Regions from separate parts of the Homo sapiens genome. Here regions 1, 2, 3, 4, 5 and 6 are each linked to region 7. Evidence: fine-mapped expression QTL. A gene starts in region 7. Each other region holds a variant in brackets. All regions are shown on one strand. Distances are from middle to middle.

The links. PIP is the estimated chance that this variant, and not a neighbour inherited with it, causes the effect.
Region 1: its variant is fine-mapped to the expression of VENTX in whole blood (TOPMed, PIP above 0.99).
Region 2: its variant is fine-mapped to the expression of VENTX in T cells (TOPMed, PIP 0.90).
Region 3: its variant is fine-mapped to the expression of VENTX in whole blood (TOPMed, PIP above 0.99). The same link has a PIP of 0.9 or more in blood mononuclear cells.
Region 4: its variant is fine-mapped to the expression of VENTX in whole blood (TOPMed, PIP 0.94).
Region 5: its variant is fine-mapped to the expression of VENTX in whole blood (TOPMed, PIP above 0.99).
Region 6: its variant is fine-mapped to the expression of VENTX in whole blood (TOPMed, PIP above 0.99).

The regions. Positions count from the first base shown.
Region 1 is chr10:133,215,662-133,219,956 of GRCh38, forward strand. It overlaps KNDC1 (kinase non-catalytic C-lobe domain containing 1), which reads left to right. Exons shown (of 30, transcript NM_152643.8): 27 at 3,170-3,292; 28 at 3,370-3,429; 29 at 4,294-4,295. LOC105378573 (a long non-coding RNA gene) reads right to left here and starts at 3,176. Exons shown (of 5, transcript XR_007062351.1): 1 at 3,022-3,176; 2 at 1,591-1,756; 3 at 599-664. The variant A/G (reference allele first, on the strand shown) is at 1,641.
Region 2 is chr10:132,936,657-132,940,951 of GRCh38, forward strand. It overlaps CFAP46 (cilia and flagella associated protein 46), which reads right to left. Exons shown (of 58, transcript NM_001200049.3): 5 at 1,933-2,097; 6 at 896-1,019; 7 at 305-399. Among named protein-coding and RNA genes, the nearest start is that of CFAP46, 3.8 kb to the right of the region's middle. RefSeq lists enhancers at 977-1,704, 1,705-2,430. The variant A/G (reference allele first, on the strand shown) is at 2,127.
Region 3 is chr10:133,194,669-133,198,963 of GRCh38, forward strand. KNDC1 (kinase non-catalytic C-lobe domain containing 1) reads left to right here. Exons shown (of 30, transcript NM_152643.8): 10 at 995-1,153; 11 at 2,390-2,467; 12 at 3,007-3,100; 13 at 3,669-3,831; 14 at 3,910-4,295. It overlaps LOC105378574 (a long non-coding RNA gene), which reads right to left and starts at 1,668. Exons shown (of 2, transcript XR_946511.3): 1 at 473-1,668; 2 at 1-333. It overlaps LOC105378573 (a long non-coding RNA gene), which reads right to left. Exons shown (of 5, transcript XR_007062351.1): 5 at 2,528-2,606. The variant T/C (reference allele first, on the strand shown) is at 2,026.
Region 4 is chr10:133,014,044-133,018,338 of GRCh38, forward strand. It overlaps LOC112268067. Among named protein-coding and RNA genes, the nearest start is that of LINC01168, 51 kb to the left of the region's middle. RefSeq lists an enhancer at 1-128. The variant G/A (reference allele first, on the strand shown) is at 2,297.
Region 5 is chr10:133,282,993-133,287,287 of GRCh38, forward strand. TUBGCP2 (tubulin gamma complex component 2) reads right to left here. Exons shown (of 18, transcript NM_006659.4): 12 at 2,464-2,636; 13 at 2,093-2,221; 14 at 890-1,010; 15 at 86-229. Among named protein-coding and RNA genes, the nearest start is that of ADAM8, 8.3 kb to the left of the region's middle. The variant G/A (reference allele first, on the strand shown) is at 2,023.
Region 6 is chr10:133,178,599-133,182,893 of GRCh38, forward strand. The region is part of intron 3 of KNDC1 (kinase non-catalytic C-lobe domain containing 1); the gene reads left to right. Among named protein-coding and RNA genes, the nearest start is that of KNDC1, 21 kb to the left of the region's middle. The variant C/T (reference allele first, on the strand shown) is at 1,930.
Region 7 is chr10:133,235,160-133,239,454 of GRCh38, forward strand. It overlaps VENTX (VENT homeobox), which reads left to right and starts at 2,696. Exons shown (of 3, transcript NM_014468.4): 1 at 2,696-2,996. The coding sequence starts at 2,756. RefSeq lists enhancers at 1-461, 1,671-2,274, 2,275-2,879, 2,880-3,483.

The DNA of each region.
Region 1 (4,295 bases), 19 kb before region 7:
CGTCCTGGGCGCACCCTCACCCCGAGCTGCCCCAGCGGGTGGAGGACTGCCCCTCCCAGCCTGAGACCCACCTCGAGCCTGCGGCGGCCCTGCCTGAGGGTCTCCGGGATGGCCGCTCGTCCTGGTCACGCACCCGTGTACAGGTCTGCAGGGTGGGCAAGAGTCGTGCAGGCTCACACCCAGGGCTGCTGGCACCCAGCGTGGCCGGGACAGAGCTCGGCACTGCTGCCACATCCCCGTTAGCAAAAGGGAGCTGCGGATCGCTCAGAACAGGCCCCTCACCTCCTCACGGGAGCGGACGGACCTCGCCGGAGACCCACTTCTAAAAGCACCACGCTCGTCCATCTAACAAGTGTTAGAGCCACGATGTCCTGACGTATTGTGTCTCAATGGCTGTGAGGTCGGAACAATCCAGGACACTGAGTTTCACATTTGTAAATTCAGGACCCCAGAAAATCATTAAAATACAAAATTCGAGCACAGAGGGCAGCAGTGATCAATAAAAATGCTCGGGGGTCAGTGGCTCCGTTCTGACGATGCCTGGAGTGAGGCGAGGTGGAGACACAAGGGCAGGAAGAAACGGCATAAAATTTCTCACCTGAAGAAAATGGGGGGTCGGTGGTTCCGTTCAGACAATGTCTTGGTGGCACCGTTTAGACGACGTCTGGAGGGAGACAAGGTGGAAACAGAAGCAGGAAGAAACAGCGTAAAATTTCTCACCTTAAGAAAACGCAGGCCGGTCGCAGTGGCTGATGCCTGTAACCCCAGCCCTTTGGGAGGCCGAGGAGGGCAGATCACTTGAGACCAGGAGTTGGGATCAGCTTGGACAACATATCGAAACCCCGTCTCTACTGAAAATATAAAAAATTGTCCAGGCTGGTGGCGCACACCTGGAGTCCCAGCTCCTCAGGAGGCTGAGGCGGGAGGATCACTGGAGCCCAGGAGGTGGCGGTTGCAGTGAGCTGAGGTTGCACCACGGCAGCCTAGACGACGGTGCGAGACCCTATCTCAAAAAAAATAAAAAATAAAAATGGGGAGTTTGAAAGCAGAATAGGGCTTTGGTTTCTTTAGATTTGTTTAAAAATATGGAACACCATAGCCAAGAGGTGGAGGCACCTAAATGTCCACGGAGAGAAGAACAGATAAAGAAAATGCGGCCTCTTTGTACCTTGAGAACTTATTCAGCCTTAACAGGAGGGAAATTCTGACGCCTGCGGCAGCACGATGAACCTCGAGGGACTCAGGCTCAGGGAAACGAGCCAGTCGCGAAGCACGGACAGTGGACGGCTCCACGTACACGAGGCGCCTGGAGGCGCAAGATTCACGGAGACAAAGTAGCAGGGTGGGCGCCGGGGGCTGGGAGTGGGGCACGGGGAGCTCGTGTTGAACGGGGACCGAGTTTCCGTTTGGGAAGATGGAGAGTCGCAGACATGCTGCACAGTGTGGATGTAGTTAACACGGCTGAACCGTGCACTCAGAAAAGGCTACAAAGGTAAATCCTCTATTACATACTTTTTACAATTAAAAATCAAAAGGTTAAAACAACAGTGAAAAAGTGTGGCGAAATAGTTTTATCTCAAAATTACATACTTTGCATCTACTTAAACCGATGAAGAAACAGACTGAGACGTCAGCGTAGA[A/G]AGTGTATCCGGTAAACACTTCTCAAGCTCCTCTCAAGGCGCTCAGGCAAGAGGGCTGGGGCCGCAGTCGGGGTGAGCCCAGGATCACATGAGGCGCCTTCAGCTGCACAGGGGCCCTGCAGACAAGAGTTGAGCCCGGGGGCAGGCGCGGTGGCTCACGCCTCTAATCCCAGCACTTTGGGAGTCCGAGGCGGGCAGATCACGAGGTCAGGAGTTCGAGACCAGCCTGGCTGACATGGTGAAACCCCATCTCTACTAAAAATACAAAAATTATCACGCCTGTGATCCCAGCACTTTGGGAGTCTGAGGCAGGCAGATCATGAGGTCAGGAGTTCGAGACCAGCCTGGCTGACATGGTGAAACCCCATCTCTACTAAAAATACAAAAATTATCACGGCTGTGATCCCAGCACTTTGGGAGTCCAAGGCGGGTGGATCATGAGGTCAGGAGTTCGAGACCTGCCTGGCCAATATGGTGAAACCTCATCTCCACTAAAAATACAAAAATTATCACATCTGTAATCCCAGCACTTTGGGAGTCCAAGGCGGGCAGATCACGAGGTCAGGAGTTCGAGACCAGCCTGACCAACATGGGGAAACCCTGTCTCCACTAAAAATACAAAAATTATCACGCCTGTAATCCCAGCACTTTGAGAGGCTGAGGCAGGAGAATCACTTGAACCCGGGAGGTGGAGGCTGCACCGAGCCGAGATCGCGCCACTGCACTCCAGCCTGGGCCACAGAGCAAGACTCCATCTCAAAAAAAAAAAAAAAAAGAGTCGATCCGGGGCATGGCGTCCAGCTGGACTCTGCAGCCTTGGTTTCCACCAAAGGATGGCCCAGGCCAAGGTGATTCCTCAGGGACAGGCAGCTACAACAGGAGGGGTCAGCTGAGTTCTCCAGAATCTTCCTGAAGCCCTGGAAGTGGATCCAGGAACGCAGCCCTTTGGGACTGCTCAGAATAGGAATCCTGCTGGGTGAGGCATTCACCACCCATGGGGTGTTCCAACCAAGGCCAGCAAGGTCGTCACCGCCAGCCACAGAGCCCCGGAGGAGGGGGCGGCACTCAGGCACCCACCCCGGACTGCACCCAAACACTCCTGCCACGGGCTTGGCGCAGCGGGTTGGGGGGTGGGCACGGAGCTGCCTGTGGCTCCCCATCTGCCTGTGGACACGACAGCGGCCTCTCCCTGGGTGGGGTCGCCTTTCCCAGTCCTGAAGCTGCCTGGGGAGGTGCATCCAGGCACAATCTTGCTTTTGAGAAGTGAGGGTGGACTTCTTTTCAAGTCTTTCCGCGTATCAGGCTTTGCTTTTATTTTGTTTTATTTCAAGTCATGCCCACCCCGTCCCGCCAGCCCAGCCCCTCCACGGCCACCGCTCACCTGCGTCCACACAGCCGCTTCCTTTCCACACACGTGATGCAGCACACGCTCTTGTGTCTTGGAGCTGGGTGATTTTAACAGGTTCTCAAATATTCCCTTTGTTCATCTTAAACCAGAAGACGCTGAATGTGTCATTTTCTTATTGCAGCTGCAGGTGAACTTGCTGTCCAAATTTTTGCTGATTGCAAAATCTTGCTATGAGCAGAGAAACTTCGCGACAGCCATGCAGATCCTGAGCGGGCTGGAGCACCTGGCCGTGAGGCAGTCCCCTGTGCGTCCCCCTCGGGCCCCAAGGCGGGGGTGGGTACCCGCACGGCCGCAGGAGGCTCACCTGTGCTTTCATTTCAGGCCTGGAGAATTCTGCCTGCAAAGATAGCAGAGGTCATGGAGGAGCTGAAAGCCGTGGAGGTACCAGCACTTTACGTGGCCGGGCGGCTTTGGTCCCCCGAGGCCCTCTCCTAAACGAACTGCTGTGCAGAGCCTGCCGCACCCAGACGCAGGCACCACAGAGTGTGTGCAGGTGGCCCAGCCAGGGTGGCCTCACGGAGGCCTTGGAGTCATCTCCCGGCAGGGCCTCTGTTGCCACCTGGGCAGAGGTGTCCCACCTGCTCGGTCCCGGGGCCTTGCTGGTCTGAGTTCCTCACACAGAGCACAGGTGCCCAGAGGACAGCACTGAGGTCTGTGGCTGGGGCCTGAGCTTGACCGACCTGGACCTCCTCCAGGACGGCAGGGGTGGCCTCATGAGATGATGAACAAGGAATTGCTGCTGGAAGTGACCAGCCATCCCCAAACATGACTCAGACGAGTCCCAGAGCAGCCACAGCCTGTCCCCGTCTTGGGTCTCAGAGCTCGGCCTCAAGCCCCAGCCACAGCTGTCCACGGGTGGGACGGCTCCTGCATGTCTTTGCTGGACACGCAGACACGGGGCCCTGCTCTGGTCAGCCGGGGTCTCATTTAGGGAAGCTGGGTTACCTGGCACTTCCTGGAGTCCAGCAGAGAGCAAGGAAAGGGACTCACCATTTCAGCAGCAGGAGGCACAAAACCTCCCAGCGGCTGTCAGGGCCGTGAAAGCTTAAGACCCCGCAGGTGTGAGCCAAGTCCAACCATCCAGGAACATTCGGGACTGGAAGCTAATTCAGAGAGCCGGGTAGACCCCGTGCGTGGAGAACGCAGGACCCGCTGGGACTGGTTGGGCTGCGCTGGCCCCGGCTGAGGCTCCTGCACTGACCACGCCCTGTCTCTCCCCGGCCCACGCCCCGGCTGGACCACCAGGT
Region 2 (4,295 bases), 300 kb before region 7:
TCCAAACACACCATGATCTCCTCCTACAGGCTCTTTCTGCACTTGGCTTAAAGCCGCCCTCTCCCTTCTGTGGCCTCACTGGCCTCTCCTCTGTGCTGGGAGGGAGGCAGGGCCAGGAATTGGGGTGGCCTTCGGATCCCCACACCCTGAGGTCTCCCAGGCTCCTATTCTCCAGCCCCACTCACTGCAACTCCAGACTCACAGGCCCCTGGACACAGGACCTCCCCCCATGGAGGGGACAGAGCTCTCCCAAGCCCAGCACTTGTGAAACTCAGTATTTGCTCTCCCTCCCAAAACGACTTACGCCTTTAGCATATTAATATAGAAAGTGACTGACAGGCTAATGGAATTTTTCTTTTCTTCCTTTAACTGAAGTTCGTCCATTAATTCATGACGAACCTGTCATAAAATGGAGCAGATTATTAATCTGGATTCAAACAATTCGGTAGAGGTTCAGATTTTGTGTCTAGATTTTATTTTCTCATTAATTTTGTATCTAGCTTTTCAGATACAACTTAAGCTGATTCCCCATATGTCAAAATGGACTGCTGATGAATGAATGCTTTTGGTACATATTCTTGTAGTAATTACTTGTATCTTTGTGAATTTTCTATTAACTTTAAAAAAATTCAAAGCTATTACAAAGGAAATATTTAAAGAGCGACGATAAAGGCAAAAGACCCTGTTTTGTTTTCTAAATGTCACAGTTCTATACATCTTTGCATTGGATGAACTGCTATTTCTTTTTAATATGCTTATGTAATTTTGTTCATGTATGTATGCATATAGATTTTTATATCTCTCAGCAAACTTATGTAATTTCTACGCAGTTTTCTGAACAATGACTTTTAAGAAAATTACTTCTTACGTCTCTATTTCTAATACGCTGATTTACCATAACAGAGAATATCTGCCGGTATTTCTGTGGCACGTGAGACTTAATGAACGGAGCTGCCGTGGAGCAGAACCTGGCAGCCTCCTCCTTTCTTCCGGCTTGCAGATAACACTCCAGAAGTTCCCTGGATAATAGAAACACACCACTGGTCAACCTGGTTGAAACTGTTTTCTCCTATCTAATAACCAGGTTATTAAACCATTACATATTTTGTGTTTCACAAAGTTTAAAAGCTACCCTGGGGTCAGCTTCTTCAGCCAGAACCAGGCTGTGTGGCTCACCAGGAAGGGCCAGCAGGTGCCAGACAGCTCGTTACCGCTAGCACCGGGGCATTTTGAAATGAAAGATCTGTATTGATATTCTTCAAAGGTTCCCCAAACGGCCATATGGCAAGTAACCAACACCTGCAGGCTGTGGGCTTGGTGCCGAGGGGAGCTGCTCTGGAGTTGGCACAGCTGGAATCCTCAATGGGGACATCCACCCGTCCCCAGCCTGCACAGAGAGTGCCGCAGACACAGAGAGGCTCGGACCCGTTTCCTTTCCGCCGCCCGGCACAGTGACCGAAGCATTGGTGACAGCCTGTGCGGTGACCCCTCAGGGCTGAGACCCAGCAAGGCCGGCCTGCCCTGTGCTGCCCCAACTTCCTCGCAGGGCTGCCTGGGCTCCGCATGTGCTGACTCTGCTTAGTTTTACGCTGTTAAAACGTCTACTGCGTTACCATTTTAAGAACTAAGATTGTAAAACCGTGAGCCAGGCTGCGTGGGGCAGGATCATATCTGCTTTGCTGGGAGTCTAAACACAGTATCTTGTTCTGTTGTCATAACCTCATAACCAGGGCACGGCAAATGTCATCTACAGATTTTGGAAACGACCTTCGGACAAGACACACAGAAACTTGTGACTGTGGGAGAGAACGCACATGGAGTGTGCCCCAGTGATGTGGAACTCCCGTCCCCCCCCCGGAGAAGGGGTGGTGGCCTCAGAGCCAGAGGGCGGCCCACCGGGAGGCCACAGAGGGCACGGCGAGCTCAACTCACAGCATCAGCTCAGCACGCCACTCCTTGTCTTCCTCCTCAGTCTGACTCAGCACGTTTATGATTTGGGAAAGGCTGGGGATCAGATGGTGACGATATCCAGGCTTGAGGAACGGCCTCACCATCTGCCAGTAGAGGACTGATGCATTGTACACCAAAAAGTAGTACCTGCGGCGCGAGCAGAGGAAGCAGAGAGC[A/G]CGCTCAAAGCCCAGCCGGCCCAAGCTGCAGAACCAAGGGGCCGCTGTGTCTCCGGAGCCCCTCCCAGGAGGGGCCTCAGGTCCTCTCCAGCAGATGGCAGCAGCCCCACCTGAGAAGCTTTGGCCCAGCCTGCAGGAGCACCAGGATGCAGAGCCCTTCCCTGGGACAGCCTTGGGCGACCCTGCGTCCGACGTGCCATGGCTCCAGCGCAGGCCCGGCTGTGATGACCCGGCCACAGGCTCCCGAGTCCAGACCAGGGCCTTCTTCATCAATTATTCCACAAACTGATCGGCCCCCTCCCATGAAAATACACCACTGGGCAAGGCCTCCTCTGACTCTCAAGGGATAGACAAGAATGGGCAAGGACAGAGGGAATCAAGGAAGGCTTCCTGGAGGAGGTTACATGCCTGCTGTGACCTGAAAGATGTCAGGAGGCAGCCAAGACAGTAGTAGAGGAAAAGAAGGTCAGGAAGATGGAGGAGAAGGGAGGAACCTTTGGGAAACAAAGTTCCCGTCTGCCAGCATAGAGTGTGAAGTGGAGGAGGGTGGGCTGGAAGAGTGAGCAGAGACCCCTCTCAGGGGTCTGGGCCTCTCCCTGGGCAGCAGGGAGCATTGCAGGGACTGAAGTAAGGGAATCCGGGCCCATCTGCCCTTCTCACTCTAGGGCCACTCCACAGTGGGGCAGGCCAGCTCTGCCATGTAGGGCCTGTGTGCCTTGTGGTCCTGGGCCGGCCACCAGGTGGACCAGCACTGCTCAATGCCCAGGTGGGAGGAGGACACCAGGGTGGCTGTGGCAAGCCCACTCCTCTGAGTTTACTCAGAGCCACCACGTGACCCTAGGACAGGACTCATCCTGTTTCCAGGTTTTCAGGAGAGGAGCGGAGGTGCGGGGTGTCCTGACCAGACGGTCACGCCTGCTTGAGTCAGAGGGGTCATCATGGGACTCCAGCGGCCTGCTGCGTCTCCCTGAGTGCTGCGTCTCCCTGAGTGCTGCGTCTCGAAAGGAACCCGTCTCCTCCCTGTAAGTGGCTCTCCCCAAATTCCCACTGTGGCCTCCACATGCCCGTGGTTGGGCTCACAGTCTCCTGTCCCACTGACACTGCCCTGGACAAGCCAGCGCTGCCCTCTCTCTCCACACAACCTGGACCCTTCCCAAAGATGGTCCTGACCTCTGGCAAGGCTCTGTCACCCCCTGACCCGTCCACAGTGCCCCTGAGGGCCCTGGAGCAGAGCAGCCTCCTTCCCATGGTACCCACCACTCCCGCGTCACAGCACCCTTGGAAATACCCCTTGTCTTTAGAATCTGTGGCTTGAGGTGGGGCCTCCCCGTCCCTGTCCCCATGCAGAGAGGATCTGTGGGGCTGGGCCCTACATCCCCAGCACTTGCAACAGGGTGTGACCAGAGAAGGCCACCAGCAGACAAGCAGGCCGATGTGGGTAGAACAGACCAGGGAACCCACAGCTTCTATTTAAATATCCTCCAAACATTGTATCCTATTTGAATATGTGATATATGTTCAAGCAAATATGCTTGAAACTGTCAAGCTTGCACAAAACTGATTTGAATAGGATATGAATCAGTTTTGTGCAAGCTTAACAGTTTGAAGCATGATATTTGTTTTTGTGCAGAAAGCACTGATTTTGTAGAAAGTGCTGGAGTCGCCTCCGCAGGGACAGCGGCCTTGGCCAAGTTGTCCGCTAGGGAGCAGCAAAGGCACGCTGGGCCGAAGAAGGAACCGTGGGGAAGGAGAAGGCGCCCTGGGGGTGCGCCCGGGGAGGCCCTGGAGAAAACAGACTCTTTTTTTTTTTTTATTGATACAGAGTCTCGCTGTCATCCAGGCTGGAGTGCAGTGGCGTGATCTGGGCTCACTGCAACCTCCGCCTCCCGAGTTCAAGTGATTCTCCTGCCTCAGCCTCCCCAGCAGTTGGGATTACAGGCATGTGCCACCACGCCCGGCAGAAAACAGACTCTTCACAGCCATCTAAAATCACGAAAACCGCCGAGTGCAAAAGAGGCTGTTACTCGGAATTCGGCATGAATGTGGCCTGTCCACACGCTGACGAGATGAGGGAGTGATCACACGTGCATGAAAATCACAGACCACAAACGAGGGGAAACCCCACAGTTCAAATAAATACACCCACTTGATAAGTTCTGGCTCTGAAGT
Region 3 (4,295 bases), 40 kb before region 7:
GCTGCCTCTTCCCAGCTCCACACTCAAGGGCACTGCATTGGTAGCCAGAAGTCAGCCACGTGGGAGTACTTACACCAGGGAAAGCAGCAAACGCTACAAATGTCTTGTTCTGTTGACTCTCTGGACTTACTGAAGTGATGGAGAACACGTGGATGATGTGATTAAACTTAAAAGTGTGTCATGTCTGTGGCCGCTCCCTTGAGAATAGCCCAAAAGGTGGAGGACATGGTCTTACGATATCAACCGCGACCATCTGATTCAGCAAAGACGTCGCTCAGAGGGGTGCCCCGAATTCCAGCATGGGTCTGTCCGGCTTCACTTCCATCTCATTTACTGAAATGAATGAAAACATCAACCAACACTCATGTCAGCAGCACTCGTGTATTGTGGTGGACTGTGGATGAACATGGGTTTCATTGATTTTTATCAATGAAAGCCTTCAGTGAGAATTGACTGGCTCTGTGGAACTTACAAAACGTGCATCAAATGGTGTGCTGTGCATCCCTTACATCAGCAACGTGCCGGATGAACTCAGTTTGCACACAGGCGGTGTGTTCGCTCGGAGAGCCAGTTGTTAGCCATGTAGCAGCACGGCACCAGTCGGGGGGCTTCCGGGAGCAGGCACCAGTCGGGGGGCTCCCGGGTCCGTGAGGTGGGGGCTATGCTGGCCAGTTCTCCTCAAACCCTCGAGCTGCTGCCTTCGTGAGGAGAGTGGAAGGTGGGAAAGTCCAGTTGAGGCTTCCAACCCTCTGGTGTTTAAAACGCGGACAGAACCATGGGGGAGAGTTCGACCTGCAGGTTCCTGGACCACGACCTGGAGGCGGATGCAGGGGTCCAGGGTGGGGCCTGATAGATGCTGAGGAGGGGTCTTGAGGAGAGCCCCTCTGTGGGGGCAGTGCCTGGGTGCCCCTCAGGGTGCCTGAGGTGGGCAGGTCTGCTGGGCACAGCAGCCCACAGCCCTGCGGTAGACACTATTCTCTCCCCACCCGCCCAGGCCTCTGTGTACTGTGTGGCCGCCGTTCTGTGGACCGCAGCCAAGTTCAGCGTCCCCCGCAACCACAAGCTGGCCCTGCCACGCAGGCTCAAGACCCTCCTCCTGGACATGGCCAGGCGCAGTGCCCCGGAGCGGCCGTCCGCGGCTGAGGCCATCAAGGTAACCACACCACAGTCATGGCCCCAGCCCAGGGTCCAAGGACTGTGGGCAGTGGCCGCCCTCGCTGAGCTGGGGGTGGAGGAGCACGGGCTGCCAGTGTCCAGGTGATGAGGCCACCAGGTCTGTTTCTAGGTCCCTGTTTCTAGACGTCGGCCTGGCCGTCGCATGGGGAAGGGAGTGGGTTTCGCGTCATGGCCACGTCCATGTGGGTGGACAGCATGGGGGTCTCTGCTGCTCCCCACCATGGCCGTTCCTCCTGCGGAGCCCGCTCTCTCCAGCTTGTCCAAGAGGCCAGGGCGGGGGCAAGGGGTGTCCTGTGGGCACGTGCAGACCCCTGCTCTTAGGCCCTGCTGGAGGGGAGCAGAGAGAGGCCTCCACACCTCACCCCCCACCCCGAACCCCCACCTCCTCTGAGGATCCCACCAGCCCCGCCCCTCCCTGCCTGGTCTCCCTGCTGGACTCAAGCTTTGGGGCTGGGTTCTAACGTACTCCTGCTGGGACCTGCACCCGCACCCGGCATGGGGACCAGCGGGTGGACCAGCAGGTGGGGCAGGAGCCAAACTCTCATGTGTCAGTGATCAGGAGGACCTCCTGGGGAGGAGCCGAGCTGGGTGTGGGTGATCAGGAGGACCTCCTGGGGAGGAGCCGTGTCTGGGGGAGCGGAGACGGCCATGGGGTTGGGGACCTGGGTCCAGCCGTCTCCGCCTCGACTGCTCTGTGGTCTTGGGCGGGTTGCTCAGACCCTGTGGGCCTCTCAGGCCTCCTCTGCTGCAGGAGGATGAGATCTAGACACGGCTGGGCGTCTGCCAAGCAGTGAAAGCAGATTTTATTCAGTAACTACTGAGAGCTGGGGAAGCTGAGCTCAGTTCCCA[T/C]GTGCACAAGGCCTGAGCTTATAAAGGGAGGACAGGAGTGGCCGGGGGCAGGGAGCGTGGGGCTCAGGCGAACGTGACCAAGGGCTGCCAGTGTCCAGGCGACGAGGCTACCAGGTCTGTGGCCAACGCTGGGTTTGGGATTCTGCCCTCCCAGGGAGCCTGGGGGACAGTGGCCGACTGTGAGCCCTTTTCAGGAAATGCTCTAAGAAAGGCTTGTCCGGGGCCTGTAGTTGGGTGTCGGTGAGAACAAACAGGAAACCCTCCTGGCAGCCCTGAGCTTTTTCAGATGGGGACCCAGTGACACGGGGACGGTGCAGCCGTGGCTGAGGCCTGTCGGGACGTGTGAACTGTCTCCTCCCTCCAGGTGTGCGGCAGCTACCTCCTCCAGCGAGGCATGGACAGCCGGAAAATCCTTGCCCACCTCAGAGCTTCCATCTGCCAGGTGGGCTAGAACAGCCAGGCCGCCGCCTCCTCCGCCGCGCTTAGCTTCCTCCCTCCTGGACGCACTTGCCCTTGCCTGGCCGCTCCCGGCAGCCCCACACCCCGGTCTCTGTTGACCACCGAGCTGTGGGTGGGTGCATCTGGGGGTGCAGGGGGACACTCGAGTCCCATCTAAAGGCCCCACAGTGGCCCCCAGGGACCCAGATCAGGATCAGGGCAGGGTCCCAAGGACGGCGGCCCAGCACCCACCCCGGGCGCAGAGAGCTTTGGGAGTGTGGGCCCTGAGTCTCGGGTGGTGCTGGCGTCTCCCACTCCCTGGAACCCACGGAAACCTGGTTGGCTTGGGAGGCAAAGGAGCCCCAACGGCTCCCTCTCCAGGCAGAGCCGCTGCAGAGCTTGGGCCGTGTGGCCGCCATGCCCGGCTCCTCCCCAGCAGGAAGCTCCACGGCACCGGCGGGTGGTGGGGGACGCCCTGTGGGTGTTGCCGGCGCTGGCGGAGCTCCGTGGTCACCTGGCCCAGGGCTGTCACCTCCTCCCCAGGTGTACCAGGAGGAAGAGACCATCAGCCTCCAAAACGCCTTCTCAGTGGTTGAACTGAAGCCCAGTGTGGCACCAGCCCCAGAGCCCAGCCCAGGTGGGGACCTGACCAGCCCCTGCTGCCCCACCAGCTCCTGCACCTGACACCACAGCTGCCCCCACCTCTGCATGGACAGACACAGCCGGGCACCTCTCGGAAACCCGGGAAGCAAGTCCAGAGCTCGGCCAACGTGGCCCATGCAGCCCAGCCTGCCTGCCCCTGCCAGCCCCCATCTCCCAAAACTCCCAGTCGCTCAGGCCCCAGCTCCAGGTTCTCACTCCCATCTCCCAGCAGCTGGCCCTCCCAAGCCCACATCTGGAGACCCCCAGAGTCCACACAGAGCCCACCCCACCCCCGTACTGAGCCCTGCTCAGCAGGCCCCTCCAAGGCTTCTGGTGGGGCCTGGTCTTGCTGGCCCGTCCCCGCCTGCTGGCCCTCCCCCAAGCACCAGTCTCACCCACCCTCCCATTCCAGGGCCCAGCACAGAGGAAGCCCCCAGGGCCATGCGGGAGGGGACGCGGCACCACGCACTGGGTGGGATGAGCACTGGGTGGGATGAGCCGGTGGTGCGGCACGTGCTGGGGCCACTCCGCCCGCCCACACCCTCAGCCCCCTGGCTCCCCAGGCTTCCTGCCGGTGAACAGCGACACCGGGCTTGTGGCTGTGCCAGGGCCCGTGCCCGGCCAGCACCCCTGCGGTGAAGAAGCCACCCAGCTGCCTGCAGCGTTCACCTCCGAGGCCACGCACTTCAAGCCCATTGTCCTCGCGCAGAACGCAAGTGTGGCCAGGTGAGCATCGTCCCCACACCCCGGAGCTGCTGGGTCCCGGGCGCAGGCAGCCCCTCCTGAGCTCTGCTCCTCCCGTAGGGACCAGCCTGCCTTGGCCCAGGAGGAGTCCGAGGAGAGGGGCGGCCAGAGGGAGGGAGAAGGTGAGGAGAAGCTCTCCCTGGAGGCCCACGCTGGGTCCCCCAGCCTGAAGACGCCTGACGGGCCGGTGCCTGGTCCGGGGCCACAGGGAGCAGCCCCAGAGCCTCTTGGGGCGTCAGTGCAGCGTGACTCAGCCCAGGGCCGCCCCTGCCCTCCACCCCAGGCCCCAGCAAACCAGCCAGAGGGGGCCTCATCGGCAGCTCCCGGCTCTCCAGTCCCCGCCCCGCCCACGAAGGCATCTGCGCTGCCCGTAGAGCAAGGGCCGGCTGAGCCGATCCCACCTGGAGTTGCTTCCGGGGGCCTCAGGCCCGACGCCCTGGGGCCCA
Region 4 (4,295 bases), 220 kb before region 7:
CAGAGCCCTGAACATCCCTTCAACAGCGCGCCACACGCTCCTGGCACAAACTCCAGACCACGGCACAGCACCCAGATGGCTGCAGCCACGCAGGTGACACAGGGTCCAGAAACCTTGACAAAAAAGATACTTCGGGGCATTGGGATGTGTGAGGCTCAGGTGGGAGGAGAAGGCTCCAGCCCTCACCACGCTTGGCCCTGCCTCCAGCAAGGACCCCCACCCCAGGGCTCCAGGCCTCGGGCTGCTGCCTGTCTGATGTGAGCGTCCTCACCCTGTCCAGAAACCCACAACTGCCAGGACCGTGGGGTGACAGCCACGGTGGGCTCTGCAGGCCCCTCTGGTCTAAGACACCAGGAGGCCACATCCAGCAACCAAGGCCACCCGGCAGGACACGTCAGGATGGAGGTGCAGTGAAGACTGCGGTGGACGCCTCCAGAGGTTCCCACTTGGCTTCCAGTGGAGCCTCTGCCAAACCCGGCCTGTGCAAGGGCAGAGACAAGGCCCAGCAGGGCTCGAGCAGGCCCAAACGCACGACGCAGCTGCTGTGCCTGGGTCTGAGCTGCACCCACAGGTGACGTGAGGGGCGCCTAGGAGGCGGGGGAGGCACGGGGCCGGGAAGGCTCGGGGGTCCCAGAGCTCTCAGTATGCACCATGCCCGGGCAGCCTGGTTAGTCAGGGTCACTGTGGCGGGGAAGTCGGGAGCCAAGAGGCAGCTCAGCTGCAGGTGGCTCAAGACAGCAAGGGCTGCAGGGGGACCAGGAGTTTCAGGCAGCCAATGGTGCTGGCGGCAGGGCCGGGATGGAGCAGGGCGGGTCCCCGAGGCCTGCTGGTTGGGTCAGCCTTCCGAGGCCACTGCTGGGCATGAGACAGAAGAGATGGCATGGCTGATGTGATGGATGGGGGCCCGACACTCTAGCCCCAGCCCCTCCCTGGCTTCTGGGAGGCCCGGGCTGCCTCTGGGCAGGAAGAGATGCTGCTCCCTGCAGGCCAGGCCGGCTCCGGTGGAAGGAAGTCCTGGGCGTCCGCTGCAGGCCAAGGCCTCTCCTGTGCACCTGCCCTCACTGCGGCTGGCAGGGACGGACGTGTCCGGAGGCCTCTCCTGTGCACCTGCCCTCACTGCGGCTGGCAGGGACGGACATGTCCGGGCCGCAGGGTGAATCCTCCACGCTTTTCCTTGTCTCTGTTGCAGTTTTCCTGGCGTCTTGTCCTCTGGATGGGCCTCTGGATGAACATAAACTCCAGGGAAGCTGCATAGAATATGCAGCTCTTCTTTAACGCTCCCTAGAGGAAGAAAGCCCCTCAGCCGGAAGTATTGTTGACGTCGCCGCCACTACTAATGAAATATTTACTGAAAAGCCAAAGCGAAACATTTTTCTAGTTAATTAAAACAGTGCATCTTTCAAGCAAGCTCCCTCGAGGGGCCAGGCTCGGACGGACCCAGCGGGCAGGCAACCCGAGGTGCTCCTGAGTGGGGTCTCGACTGGGAAGGGGGCGCCCAGGACGCAGGTGGGGTTCCTGCCACACGACACTGAGGGGTGGGGGGACAGACGCTGCAGAGACCCTGCGAAAGGCCCCTCCCGATGGGTAAACTCACACTTGGTACACGCTGGCAGGGGCATCTGGGCCTGCACTCTGGAATTGGTGGTGGTCCTGGGAAGGTTTTTTGGGCCAGGGACAAGAGTACTTGGGTTTGCTTTCTGGAAAAATGAAAAAAGAGAAGTTTCTGTGTTCTCTCAGCTGTGTTAAACGCTGGCAGAAGTTGCCTCTCGGACCCTCCGCAGGGCTATGACAGGCTGGAGAAGTGGGGGCTCGGGAGGGAGCTCAAACAGCCTGCAGACTCCGCCGCAGAGTCCGCACCCCTGGAAGGAGGCGTCGGGGAAGGCACTGCACCCACGCATGGCTTCGAGGGCAGGAGGCAGGTTGCACAGCGGGGGTCACAGGCTCCTCTGTCCCAGGTGGGACTGGGCGATCCCAGACACGTGTGCTGTGGCCTCTGGGCCTCATGCGGAGAGCAGATGCCAGGGCCTGCAACTCTGACCTCTGAGCACACAGGCCGGCCTCAGGGAAGGGTTGTTCTGGCTGTGGGAACCTGAACTCGAAATGGCCTCCGTTCGCTGCAGACACTGCCCGCCTGCACCGGGGACTCAGCCCAGGCAGCTCTGCACACACCTCAGCACCACCCACCCTCAGGCCTCAGCCGCGCTACCCAGCAGGCGCTTTTGCCCAGAACGCCTGCTCAGAACACCGTGAGCCACTGCCCGGCGCTGAGCCGGGGCCTCCGGAACGTGAACCAAGC[G/A]GCTGCAGCCCAGGCCCAGAGCCACCGGCATCGCCCCATGGCAGCTGCAGGACCTGGAGTGGGCAGGGTCCAGGCCAGGGAGCGGGGTAGCCCTCACCCAGGAACTCTGCCCCGGGGGGTCTCTTCCTAAAAGTGCTGGAGTTGATGGATCTGGTTAGAGCACCAGAGCCCAGCCCATGGCTCTCCAGGAGTCTGGGGCCCTCAGTGAGGTGTGTCGATGGGGACTAGGAACTGGGGAGAGTCAGGTGGAAGGGAATGTTCCAGAATGCCTATTTGAGAGACTCAGAACAAACGTGTTTCTTGTCCTTTGTGCCGTGGCCGGGCATCGTGGAGAAGCTGCATCCAGGGCGGGCCCAGCCAGGCAGCGCCTGCCTCCCCACTGCCAGCCCCTGAGATGGTCTCATCCGCTGGGCGAGCAGGCCAGGGCTGCCCGTCTCCACCTTTGTGCTGGACCATTTACAATCAAAGCGCAGCATCGAGATACCCAGGAAAGAGCCAGGAACAGGCCAGGAAGCTGCTGCCCCACCACTGACCCCACCGCTCTCCTTCCCTCCTTCCTTCCCGCTGGGCTGGGCACAGGTGGAGCTCACCGTCGTCCCCCTTCATCCCTTGGCCCCTCCAAGGCTCAAGGACTGGAGGCCGACTGGGCAGCAGACATGTCACCATCACCATGCTCCCCGTCACCACGCTCCCTGTCGCCATGGTCACTGTCACCATGCTCCCTGTCGCCATGCTCCCCCTCGCCACGCTCCCTCTCGCCACGCTCCCCGTCGCCACGGTCCCCGTCGCCACGCTCCCCGTCGCCACGGTCCCCGTCGCCACGCTCCCCGTCGCCACGGTCCCCGTCGCCACGCTCCCCGTCGCCACGCTCCCCGTCGCCACGCTCCCCATCGCCACAGTCCCTGTCGCCACGCTCCCTGCGGGTCTCCCCATCCCCCGTGCAGCTGAGGGGGCCGCATGCGGTTCTCTGAGTCTTTGGAATGTGCAGGCACCTGTGAGGCAGCGCCACCTTGGAAAAATTTGCACGGTTCTGGCCGGGGCTGCCAGCCTCCAAGGACACCTTGAGCCTGGCAAGGAGGGGTCCAACCATTTCTCATGTATGGCCACACACCACTTCCGTTCACAGAGACCCCAGCCACTCCGGGCGCCAGGTGCTGACGTGCCACGTGGGCATCTAGTAGACACGGATGCCGCATGGGGGTCTGGTAGACACGGATGCCGCATGGCGTCTGGTAGACACGGATGCCGCATGGCGTCTGGTAGACACGGATGCCGCATGGCGTCTGGTAGACACGGATGCCGCATGGCGTCTGGTAGACACGGATGCCGCATGGCGTCTGGTAGACACGGATGCCACATGGGCATCTGGTAGACACGGATGCCACATGGGCATCTGGTAGACACGGATGCCATATGGGGGTCTAGTAGACACGGATGCCACATGGCATCTGGTAGACACGGATGCCGCATGGGGGTCTGGTAGACACGGATGCCGCATGGGCGTCTGGTAGACACGGATGCCACATGGGCGTCTGGTAGACACGGATGCCACATGGGCGTCTGGTAGACACGGATGCCATATGGGGGTCTAATGGACACAGATGCCACATGGGCGTCTGGTAGACACGGATGCCACATGGGCGTCTGGTAGACACGGATGCCACATGGGCGTCTGGTAGACACGGATGCCGCATGGGCGTCTGGTAGACACGGATGCCGCATGGGCGTCTGGTAGACACGGATGCCGCATGGGCGTCTGGTAGACACGGATGCCGCATGGGCGTCTGGTAGACACGGATGCCGCATGGGCGTCTGGTAGACACGGATGCCATATGGGGGTCTAATGGACACAGATGCCATATGGGTGTCTGGTAGACACGGATGCCACATGGGCGTCTGGTAGACACGGATGCCATATGGGCGTCTGGTAGACACGGATGCCACATACGGCGTCTGGTAGACACGGATGCCACATGGGCGTCTGGTAGACACGGATGCC
Region 5 (4,295 bases), 48 kb after region 7:
TGAGCAGGCTGCGTGCGGCCACGGTCGGGACATGGTCTGCCCACCCGCGCCTGCCCACCCGATGGTGCTACCCACACCCACGCACCTGCATGCAGTTGGTGAACATGACGCACACAGACATGAGCTTGGAGAAGACCTTCAGCAGCTCGGGGTTGGTGAGCATGCAGTCCTTCAGGCAGGTGTCCAGGAAGCCTGTGTGGTGGCCAAGGACGTCGTCAATGTTGGAGGCCTGCGGGGAACAGGCCAAGCCCCTTCTCAGAAAGACGTGGCTGACAGACGGGCCCTGCATGCGCACGTGCTCAGTTCTGGCTTTGTGCATTCCTGTTTACGCACTTCTACCTCTTAAATGGGCCTTGGGCTTTTAGGGGAAAACTTCCAAACACCACTAAAAAAATGATGGGCACACCCCGAAGGGGTTTCATTTCTTAAGGCAGAAGACAGGAAGGGAGGCTGCGGCAGCTTCTGGAATTTGGTACCAACAGATTCTGCCTTCAGGCCCCTCAGCCTCAGATGCGCAATGTGGGAGAGACAACCTCGGGGCAAAGACGGCTCAGAGTCCCCCTAGGACGGCAGGCAGCAAGGGGTCCCGTGTGTGGCCAGCAGTGTGGGTGCAGCCCCGCCCTGGGGGATCCCTTCCTCTCCCCTTGCCCTGCCTCTCCTGCACTCCGTGTCTCCCTGCACTCCCTGCCTCTCCCGCATTCCCTGCCTCTCCCGCACGCCCTGCCTCTCCCGCACTCCCTGCCTCTCCTGCACTCCCTGCGTCTCCCTGCATTCCCTGCCTCTCCTGCACTCCCTGCCTCTCCCCTCGCCCTGCCTCTCCTGCACTTCCTGTCTCCCTGTGAAAGGAAAGTGGCTTTCAAACGTTATTATCTGTGGAGCTAAAACTCACGGATTTCAGGTTTTTCTCCAGGATGTGCCAGGTCGGTTCCATCACTTCAAACATCATGTAGTATTGAATATTCTGGACGAAGTTGAGCATTCGCTGCCGCAGAGTGAAAGCCCCAGCAAACCTGAGTGACACGGAGGACGGAGGACAGCCATGGAGGACGCGGCCCCGACAGCGCCCACCAAGTGACACGGAGGACGGAGGACAGCCATGGAGGACGTTCTCTGGACGTGGCTATTTCCTCTGCAGAGCAAGCGCCCCTCCCAGCACACCAGACACTCACGGCCGCTGCTCCTGCGTCTGCCCAGCACAAGCTGTCACCGTCTACCAACCTGTGCCCTGCAGGGACACCCCCAGCCAGCTGGACGGTGGAGACTGGGACGCGGGCTCCTTGGTGGACGGACCCCTCGGAGCCCACGCCAGGAAAGTGCCACACAACAGATGCATATTTGTGCTTCATCATCAAGATGAGTTCTTTTTCTTCTAATTTCTTTTTTTCTTCGAGAGACAGGGTCTTGCTGTCGCTCAGACTGCAGTGCAGTGGCACGATCTTGGCTCACTGCAGCCTTGACCTCCTGGACTCAAGCAACCCTCCCACCTCAGCCTCCTGAGTTGCTGGAACTACAGGCATTCCCGGCTAATTAAAATAATTTTCTTTTTTTTTAAGAGATGAGCTCTTGTTACATTGTCCAGGCGGGTCTCGAACTTGTGGGCTCAAACAATCCTCCCTCCTCAGCTTCCCAAAGTGCTGAGATTACAGGCATGAGCCACTGCACCCGACTGGACAAATTCTTATGAAGCTCTGCCATCGACCCCTTTTTTCAACACCCTAGAGGCACAGACCGGCTGCAAAGCACCTCTGGTCCCAGCAAGATGTGGCTGTCCGCTCTCGGGAGGAGCTAGTGTCCTGCACACCGACCTGGGCAGTCTCCATGCCCGTGCAGTCACCACAAGGCTCCAGAGAGGGCTGAGGGACAGAGCCAGCATCCCCTGTGGGGTGGACGGCAGCGCCGTGCAGCCCCAAGACAGGAAAATGAAGCAATGAAGCATTATGGATCTAAAGCCACCAACGTGCGCTTCCAGATGACACTTCCAGAAGCCTAGAAAGCTGTCTACCAGGAGGGCACAAGGGGGGC[G/A]CTGCACCACTGGGCAGAGTGCAGCGAGCGCTGCTTCAGGAGGGCATGCGGGGGCAGAGGAAGAACGCACCACTGGGCGGAGTGCAGCGAGTGCTGCTTGGCGGTTTTGTTGCTGATCCAGACGCTGCAGAGCTGCCGCTCCACGTGCTTGCAGTAGAACATGTGCCTGAAGAGCATCTGGTAGCGAGTGAGGGCTTTCCTGCAAGAGACGTGGCGGCACCTCAGGTGGGCCTCCGTGACCGGCGGCGTCGTGGACACGGCGTCTGTACTCCACAGTCCGCACCGTGGCCCCCGGACAGCCCGTGAATCTCTCGGACACTGAAGGCCGGGGAGAGCCGCCTTGGGTCCTCTGTGGGACGAGGTGGCCACCGCGTGGCACAGTTCTCGCTTCTGCCAAACCTGAGTGAAGATCTGGCAGGTGCCCGAGCAGCCGACCCGCACCTGTTGATGATGAGCGAAAGGGGCCACTTGACGATGTAGTCGAAAGAGAAGGCCTCCAGGCCGCTCAGCGCCAGCTCCGTGGGGTCGGCGTGCGCCATCGCCTTCTCCTGCTTGGTCTCGATGGCCAGGACGCGCAAGAGCTGAGTGATGAGGTCATGGGGCATCAGGTCGATCTTGGAGGGAAGGAAATGAAACAAAGCATCCAGTTTTAAGGAAAAGACCCGAAGTCGCATCCCGATCGCCATCCTCGCTCACAGACCCAGCGCTGACGTAAGGTTCCCTACATTCCGATTCTAAATATCAGAGGCTTTTCAAAAACCCAAACATCTACTGATAAATCAAATTCAAAACTGAACCACTTCCCATCAGAACAAAACAACAAAAATTCAGATGAATTACTTTGTAAATACCCACTGCTGCTGTGGGTGGTATAAGGGAAAAACCGCTAAGGACGGTGAAAGAAACGTGATTCCTTAGGACGAAAACCTTTGTACCATGATAAGCACCAGGCCCAGGTTGAAAAATGAAGCATATTTGACGAGGGACATAATAGTTATTATAAGCAAGTAATACTGTCCTCACGTTAATCACTCGAGTATTTGCTAAGTTCCAACCACCCGCAACAGAGTTCCTACAAAACCATCGCACAACGACAGGACAGGAAATGAAGGGCAGGGGATAAAGCAAGAAGAAACAAGCAGCGGACAGACGAAATCGTGACCATCACAAACGCAGAAATGAGCCCCTGACATCACTTGTCCATCAAATAGCCAAGGTGGGAGCTTTCGCAGGTGTGCAGACAGCAGCGTCCTGAGACTGGACTCCATCAACTCCAGCAAGGTCAGCCTAGTCATACAAGGGCCATGTATTGTGACCCAACAATTTCACTACCAGGAATTTTTCCTACGAAAATATTCCTGCTCCTAACAAGAGACCCCAAAATATCTGAATCAAGAATAGACAGAATGACAAGGAGAAAAGCAGTTCTTCAGTGACAGGGAGACTCGGTGCCCTACTTCTAACCACGGAGAGAACCGCCGGACAGACGATCAGTGAGGAAAGACACGGCCTCAACCCACCTGCAGAACACCACCCCAACAGCACCGAGGGCGCGTCCTCCTCCCGCGCGCACGGAACCGAGGGCACATCCTCCTCCCGCGCGCACGGAACACTCTCCAGGATGGATGTGGGGCCACTACACAAATCAATACATTTCACAAAACTGAAATCACAAAAAGTCTGTTCTCTAACAAGGAGATAAAGTTAGAAACAAGCAACAGAAGGAAAACCAGAAACTTCACAAACATGTGGAAGTTAAACATAAACCACCCACGGCTCCAACAAGAAATCAGAGGGAATCAGAAACACCTCCAGACAAACAGAAATTATGACGCTAGGGGATCAGCGAAGGCTGCACTCGGAGGGATGTTTACAGCTGTAAACTAACTTTTCAAATTAAGAAACTAGAAAAAAGAAGACCACACTGAACCCCTAAGCAGCAGACAGGAGTAACAAAGATGACAGAAGAGAGAAAACAGAAAAATACAGTCAACAAACCCAAGAGTTGGTTCTTTGAAAAGATAATGAAATCGACAAATTTCTAGCTACATCAGCTAAGACGAAAGAAGATTCAAATTACTAAAATCAGAAAAAGAAGGGATATAACTACTAATCTTACAGAAATAAAAAGCAGATACTAGAAACCCATGAACTGTGCACCAGACAAGATGCGAGACAGACAGCCGACCAAGAGGAAAGGGACTGAGCAGACCTGTGGCCAGCAAGGGGCCAAGTCCCCCTCAAAAGTCTCCAACAAAGACAAACCCAGGGCC
Region 6 (4,295 bases), 57 kb before region 7:
TCTTGCTCTTCCAGCCATCTCCCCATGCGATCTGAGTGAGATCCACACACCTGGCTGCCTCTGTGCCTCCTGAGTCTCTCATGACCCCACACCCCCGACTCTCTTTCTTCCTTGTGGTTTTTGTTGAAAACCTGGTGGTTTGTCCCTAAGGCCAGGCCCAGGACAGTCAGGGGTGCCGTAGGACTCAGGTTCCTACCAGGGCCCACCGGGGACCTGTGGTGTCTGCTCCCTGACAGCCGTCAGCAGCCACCATGAATCCTGCGAGCCGCCACAGTAGTCCTCACCTTGGTTCGTGAGCAGGGCTCCCGCTCTCAGGAGAGCCGCCCTCATCGACGCTGGGCAGCCGCAGCAGACAGTCCCTGTGGACAGAGAGGTGGGAGGCTCGACTCCTTCTCTTCATCCACCTGTTTTCAAAGCAGTGAGTGCATCCAGCGTCCTCCAACGTGGACCAGTGAGCTTGGTTTTATGATCTTATGAATTTAAGATTCGCACGTCTTTGATGGGATTTTGTCTGTTCTGCTGATTCCACCTGAAGCTCAGAAGGCACCCCGGTCCTTGGGACGCAGCTCTGCTGGGCTCTGACCCACTTCCTGGTGTGGCAGGATGCTCCAGCCCCTTCTATGGGGTTCCTGCCCCGAAATCTGATCAACCATTTGTCTGCAGAGCCCTGGCCAGTGAGGCCCTGTCTGGGCCCAGGCGGTCCTGGGAGCCCCCAGGTGCGTGTTCACAGTGTCCTCCTGAGGCCCGGGCTGTGGTGGACCCACCACGCTGAGTGCTGCAGCCGCAATTCTTCTTTGAACCAGTCACCTCAAGTCCACTGGAATTGCTTCCCAGGGCCACGAAGAGCCTCCCAGGGCTGACCTGGACCCTGATCCAAGAATCTCCAGCAGAGCAGAGGAGGGGCTTCCTGAAGCGAGACTCGGGAGAGTGTAACCCGCTTCCTACCCCCTAGAGAGGTGGCCTTTTCAGTTTGGAGAAAAACTTCAACCAGTGTTGAACTGAAAACCACTTGGCTTGACCGCGTTTGCTCAGGAATCGCATCTCGTGGGGAAGTTTTCACGTCCACTTCACGTGCGTGGCCAGGCCCTGTCCCCACTCGAGGCGAGAGCTACCGGGATGCCCATCGCGATCGCAGGCGCCGTGGGAGCTGCAGGCTTTGGACCACAGAGAGGCCCGGAGCAGGAAGCTGCAACGTCCACCTCCTCGACCCGGCTCCCCGTCGCCCTGTGGCCTAAGGTGTGATCATTTCATGCCTGATCGGCCTCCCTCCAGCCTGTTCCCTCCGCTGACGGCCAAGCCCAGCCAGGCAGGGCCACTCGGTGCTCCCAGGACAGCGTCCCAGGTTTTCTGGCCCACAGGCTTGGAGAGTGGGCCCCACCCTCCCTTCCTCTGCCAGACGCCTGCCCGTGGTCCAGCCTCGTCCTGCTGCCCTGGGGCCTCCGAGGTCCTTGTTTCCTGAGAGGAGCCTTCCCTGGCAACATGACCCCCAGGGAACTCACTCAAACGGCTGCTCTTCGCCGGTGGCTCAAATACTGCAGCTTCTGATTCCAGCACAGTTTCTCACAGAAATCTGTTTCTCCATGTATCGCTGTCTCCTGACCCCCGCGGGCAGCACACAGTTGTGTTTCCCTCCTTCAGGGTGCACCATCCTTCAGGTCAGAAGCTTCCAGAAGGCAGAAATGCTGAGCTCCCTGCATCGGTGCAAGGCAGGCCCCGTATGGCTCTGCACCTCGAGGGCCGACTGCGTCCTCTGGGCTCCAAGGGGCCCCTCGCCCGCGGCCATGCAGAGACCTGGAGATGTGAGGCTCCGCGGCTGCAAGGATAGCGTCTCAGGGGCAGGAGGAGCCCTTCCTTATGGTGCCAGCCGGAGGGTGCCCTCCAAGTTCACACCCCAGAGAGTGAGGCTTCAAACAGATTAGGTCTGGATAT[C/T]TTAAAATTATAAAAATATTAGCAGAAACAAAGGAAAGCTGTCCCTGTAGCCTCGGGGTGGAGAACATCCTCCTGCAAAGCTGCTGAAGATAAACAGGTCAGATTCCACACATGGGCACTTAGAGCTCTTGGATGTGAGAAGACACACGCACAACGTTAGAAGCTGGCAACACACACAGCAAGCGTGTGTGCGGCGCCCAGGCTGAGGCGAGCCCTGATGCGCAGGGGCGCTCGGCAGTCCTACCTCAGCGGAGAAAGCATAGTCCTTGCATGGGGATTTAGAGGAAAAATTAAAACTGCGAGTAGATACGAACAGATGCTTGGTCTCATTCATAATTACAAAAATGCAAATTAACTCGACGAGTGAGTTTACTCTAACAGATTGGCAAAGCCGCAGAGACTGGCTGCGGCTGGTGAGTAAACCGGACGGTCATTTATCAGGAGGGTTTGTCGCAGCTGTCAGAATTGTAAGTGGAGGTGACCTGGGACCCAGCATCCCCCTTCTTGGAATTGAGGCTTTGCACACCTGACATGGCTGCACAGATGCCACATGGGGCACCCACTGACGTCACACGCGGCACCCACAGACGCCACACGGGGCACCCACTGACGCCACATGGGGCACCCACTGACGCCACACGGGGCACCCACAGATGCCACATGGGGCACCCAGGGAAGTGTCGGTCATGACAGCAGAACATGGGAAGCACCCACAGCAGCATCAGAGCGGAGGGGACGGACCCTGTGTGCCCAAACATGCATGTCACAGGTCCCCCAGGGAGGCGGACCCTGGCCCAGGCACGAGAGGCTGGCAGGTCCCCCCCGGATGGCACAGGAGACCCCAGGAGTTGGCAGCAGAGCAGCTATCGGGGCTCCTGGCCCAAGGTGCAAAGTCAGAGACAGTGGCTGGGGCCGGTGCCAGGCGAGCCGTGAGGGGACAGGGAGGTGCCAGGTCCCCTACCAGAGGTGCGTGCACAGCAGGGAGTCTGTGGGGATGGCCAGCGGCCGGGGGCCTGGCTGGTGTGCCAGGTGGGCTGCCCCAGGGCACCAGGCAGGGTGCAGGAGGGAGAGGGTAGAGGAGAAGCAGAAACCAGCCTGCGGGGGAGGCAGGGCCAGGCATGGGACAGAGAAGGTCAGCCGGGGTTCCTGACCGGGAAGGAGATTCACGCCATGAAAAAGCCAGGATGCAGGCAGAGTGCAGCTGGGGAGAGAGAAGAGATGCGTGTCCAGCTGTCTGTGTGTGCTGGGTGTGCACGTATGTGTCTGCATGTGTGCCCGTGTCCAGACCAGGAAGCCCCAGGACCGTCCACACACACACACACACACACACACACCAGACTGTGGAAGTGGAACCACCTGCGAGGCAGTTTATGCCCCAGAGAAGAAAGTGTGGGGTGCTGGGTGCACCTGGTTTCTTCTCTGTGACACTTTCTGTCTTGTTCAAATAAGACATCTCAGGAGAAAAAGGAGTTTGAGGCAGAATTGGATGAGCTTGGTGATAGTGGTTGGAGCCAGGCTCAGGTGGAGTCAGGGGCCCTGGGATCTGGCTGGGTCCCTGCAGCCTGACCCTGAGACAGACCCTGACAGAGAGGGGGAGTCGGCCAGGATGACCAGCTAGCCTGGGGCCGCGGGATGCAGGGCTTTCTGTGAAGACTGGATGCTCCGCTGGTCACCTTGGACCTCACGACGGACTGGGGAGGTGGGTCTCAGGGTTCTGTGACGATATCTTGAGACCACCCAGGGAGAGGCCTGGGGCCAGGGCAGCCCAGGACACGGATGCGCGTCCACTCAGCCAGCCCAGGACGCAGGTGCATGTCCACTCAGCCAGCCCAGGATGCAGGTGCGTGTCCACTCAGCCAGCCTGGACTAGAGTGGACACTTGGGAGCACAGGTGCGGGGGCAGAGCAGGCCCTGGGTCAGGTCCTGGCTCCACACATGAGCTGTGTGACCTGCGATGTGGCCCCAGGCAGGTTCCTGAGCCGCTCTGCGTTCTGCTTCCTCTTGTGGGAAAGGTGAAGCCCCACAGGCAGCCGTCCTGGGAAGAAGTGTCCAGGCCTGAAGTGCGGCCGTGTCCAGGGTGGACCTCGTGCAGAGCCCACCCTCTCAGGCAAGGGAGGAAAACCCAGACTCTCAAACAAAAAGAAAAACCCATCTTTCCTTCTACTGAAATCCAGTTTTTGAGGTTTTGAAGTTTTTGACCTAAACACTGAAAGGCCAGAGGAGTCTGTGTCCCTCCAGAAAGCGCAGAGGGGCGGGGCCATGGCCAGCACAGATCTAGGCCCAACTGCGCGGGCGGCGAGGGCGCGGGCAGTGTGGGCGCAGGTGGTGTGGGCGTGGGTGGCATGGGCGCAGGCGGCAAGGGCATG
Region 7 (4,295 bases):
TCACTCTGTCGCCCAGGCTGGAGTGCAGGGGCACGATCTCGGCTCACTGCAACCTCCATCTCCCAGGTTCAAGAGATTCTCCTGCCTCAGCCTCCTGAGTAGCTGGCCTCCCCCTCAGGTGGTCCCAGAGTGCTCGGAGGAGGCTCGGGCGAGTCGCGACGGGGCCGGCAGCACGCGCTGGGCCCGGTGTCTGTCCTCAGGCCCTGGACTCGGGGGGAGCGCGTTTCGGGGACTAGCTGGACTCCGGGCTGTGCGTGGGGGCGGTGCTGTCGGCCTGGGAGTGACGCGGGACTTCCTGCCCAGCGCAACCCGGCCTGGCCCCCGAGGGTGGGGGACAGGGCGACGCCCGCGGGGACCACGCTCTGGGGCGTGCGGGGCGCAATTCACGGGGCTGGGCTGCCCCAGGGGCTGGGAGGAAGGAGGCAGGGGGGCGCCCAAGTCTCCTACCCATGGCAGCGCATCAGGGCGCGTCCCAGAGCCGGGGGTGGACGGAGGCTTGGAGGCGGAGGCTTTGGGGACCCCCAAGCCTGGGCTAGAGCAGCCTCGGCGGGCTCTAGAGGGAGGGTGGAGGGAGGGGCCCGGGCTGCAGGAGGCGGGGAGGCCTGAGCCACGGTGGTGGGGCCGCTGGGCAGGAGAGAGGGGCTGCCTGACCCTGCCGTGTGAAGGTGAGGTTGTCTTCGGGCTTGGGGGGATCGGAGGGGGCGGTTCAGGTGGAGGTGGTGGCGGGGGGCTGGGAAACCGGCAGGAGGGGCTCTATGTAGAGCTGGGGGTGGGGGTGCTGAACCACGTACAGAAGGGGGCTGAGACACCGGGGCCCTGGGCCCCGGAAATTAGAAATGGAGAAATGGAAGGCTGGGTGCTGGCGTTTCGGAAATGCATGCTCGTGGTGTTCCTCTTTATGTAAGGGAAGCTTCTGGGCCTTTTCCCTGCCTGTCGAACGTTCTGTATGTTTTTGCGGGATGTGTGAGGTGTGCTGTCTTGCTCCACTTTGAGGCACCGCCCCCACTGCGGGAGTGCTGGGGACCTGCCCCATGGGGCATCCTCGGGGCCAGCCCTGTGGCCACAGGCATCTGGGCCCTCGCTGCCCCTGGCCGGGACACACTGCCGGTCCTGTGCAGTGGCTCAAAGCCCCTCTACCGGGGGTGACCCGGTCTCTCCGGAGATGAAGTGCAGCGGGGGTCTAGGCCGGCTTCCTGGCCCCCCACCCCTCCTGGCTTTACCCCCGAGGCCACGTCCAAAGCCCCCAGCGCCCCACCCCCGCCAGCCTCCCCCTTGAGGGCCCAGTGACCTAACTGGGCCGGCAGGGTCCGAGGAAGACCAGGGTCAGCGGCGGCACGGTCCGTTCCGCGACCCCTCTCCTGTGACCCCAGGTAGGCCGCCGATCGGTTCCCGGCTGAGGTCCCGCCCCAGCGCCCGCCTCCCGGGCTCCAACCTCTTTGCTCAGCCCGGGAGGCTCGGCTGGCTGGGGCGGGCGTAACCGTGGGGCGAGGCCCGCCGGTCTTTCTGATTTCCGCGGGCGGCGTGGGCGCTGAGGCAGCCGCGGTCAGGACCTGGCCGGGAGTCGGGGCTGCTCCGTGGACCCCGCGTCTGCGCCGAAACCCCGCATGGCTTCGGGGGCCGGACCTGCGCCTCCGCCTAACTCCGGCCGCCGGAGACGCCGTGCGGACCCCAAGCCAGTGCGCGGAAGACACCGTCCTACCCTCGGCATGGCTGCCTCCCACCCGGTCACGTCGGTCCCCGCGCCCCACGCCGACGCGCAGGCGACCCGGGGACGCGGAGACGCAGACAGCTCGGGACTCAGGTTCGTGGGAGCAGCGGCCGCGCGTGGCTATGACCGTCCCGGGGGCCCGTGCTCAGGGCGTCCCCGTGAGGTTTGGGCGCCACAGTCACCGGCGGCTCTGCCCGCGCCCTGGCCACAGTGGGGACAGCCTGGCTTGGCGGGGACGCACCAGTCCCGCCGCCGACGCGGAGTTCCTACCCCGCCGTGCGAGGCAGTGGCTCCGGCCCTTCCAGCTCGGGATGGAGTCAGGGAGCCGCCCGCGCCCGAATGCAGAGGCTCCTGCGATGGCCCCGGAGTGAGTCCCCCAGAGGAGCCGGATTAGGGCTGGAGGCGGCCGAGTCCCCCGAGAGGCCCCTCCCGACATTCCCGCCCCCGCGCGCCGCTCCCCGGGTCCTCCGCGTCTCTTTCCCGGGAAAGCCTCCCTCGGTTCCTGCGCGGCCGCACAGCCTGGACGCAGCGCACGCGGGCACCGGCCTGACTCTCCCACCCCGAAGCCTGCTCCCAACCTAAGTCCGCCCTGACTCTCCCAGCCTGAAGCCTGCTCGCCCTCGGGTGTCCGGGCTGGGCACAGGCGCCAGCGTCCCCCTGGAGAGGAGAGGTCGCCCGGCACCTCCCAGGACAGGCCCAAGTGGGAGTGGGACCCTCCTACCTTCCTGCAGCCTCGGCCCGCGGGGTGGGGGGTTGGGAGAGATGAAAGGAGGTGACCGATCCCGAACCATCGCCTCTCCATTAACCAGGGCCCGCAGCCCCGCCCCTCCCCCAGACATCGAGGAGCCGGGGAGGTGTGAACGGCCTCCTTTGTGCCTCTGAATCGAAGGCAATTAGGCGCTGCTTATCTGGGCATTAGCCGTGTATGCAAACCGGGCTCCCGCCCCCTCCTCCTGGGCTTATAAACGCCGCCGCCTGGCGAGGCCCGAGGTGGATCCTGCGCCTGGCCAGCCCCGCCTGGCCTTCCCTCCGGCCCACCTGGCCGCCATGCGCCTCTCCTCCTCCCCACCTCGTGGCCCGCAGCAGCTCTCCAGCTTTGGCTCCGTGGACTGGCTCTCCCAGAGCAGCTGCTCAGGGCCGACCCACACCCCCAGGCCTGCCGACTTCTCCCTGGGGAGCCTCCCTGGCCCAGGCCAGACATCCGGCGCCCGGGAGCCCCCTCAGGCCGTCAGCATCAAGGAGGCCGCCGGGTCCTCAAATCTGCCTGCGCCGGAGAGGACCATGGCCGGTAGGTCCGGGTGGGGGGGGTCCCTTCCTTCCCAGGTGGAGATGGGAGTGGGGGAGAGGCCAGGAGCCCGGCGGCTGCACTCCCCGCGGTGCCCTGCCCACTAGGTCAGGGCCGGGGGCGTTTCCATGAGGGCCGGCGGAGGCCTTGCCGGCGCCCTCACTGGAGCGCAGCTTCCCTCGGAACCAAAGCCTTGACGGGGATTTCCTCTCCTTGAGCCCCCGGTGGGCTCCTCTGCCTCCTTTTGTCACCCCGTTCCTCAGCTGTGTCTTCGTCCCCCACCCCGGCCTGGTGCCGAGGGACCGTCCAAGGGGTCCCCGTCCGCACCTCCCTGCCCTGATTCCGGGCGCTCACTGAAAGTCTCGATGATTTGCCAAGCCCCCCGCCCCCGCCCCCCAGCACAGCCGGTGCCTGCTCAGCGTCTAGGCTCAAGCCCATTCCGGGTCACCTGGAGCACAGCTGTCTTTAAAGAGCCTGCAGGTTCGCTGCAGGGGTGGCGGTGACCCCGATGCCTGCAGAAACTCTGAAGTTCCCTCTGTGGCCGCCCAGATGCTCTGTTGTCTGCTGAGAACAAAGGTTCTCTGCGTTTGTGTTTTAGTCTTTGTGACATCATCACCACTTTTAGGTTTAAGGTAGTACTTGGTCAAAAGTGGGGTTGACATCATCTACAAGTTTTCATTTTTAAAAATTTGACTGATCCTTATGGAGTGACTTTGTACTTAAGGGAAATGAAAATTTAAATGTATTCTCCCCAGCTAGCTATCCTGCCCCACCCCAAAAAAGCCAGCCATCCCTGTCCCGCAACCCCCTTTCTGATGCCAGTCCTACAGCCCTCCCTGCCAGAAGGCATTTGCTTTTTGGGTCTACCATGTGCTTTCAGGCTAACGTTAAGACAGATTTTGTAAAATACGCTTCCTTCCGCAGAAACTCCAGCGAGCATTTTGGTCAGACTTGCATTTAATGTCGAGCTCGATTGGCCACGTTGGCCTTTCCTGGGACCCAGACCCAGCTCCACAGACCACCTCGTGGGGCCGTTTGGTGCCAGCCCCCATTCCTTAACTTAGAAATTAGGAAACAGACTTGACCACAGTGGGCCTGGGGATTAACTGAGTTGGCCTCCGCTGGCTGAGGAGACGGAGCCCGGGACAGGGATGGGTGCCCCTGGGTGGGTCGCCAGGCCTTTGCATATAATGGATTCTTACCTTACCGGCCTGGAAGGCTGTGGGAAGGGCATCCTGGGAACCGGCTTCTGGAAGGGAAGTGTGGGATGGGGCGGAACTGAGTGGACTGAGCGGAGGGCAG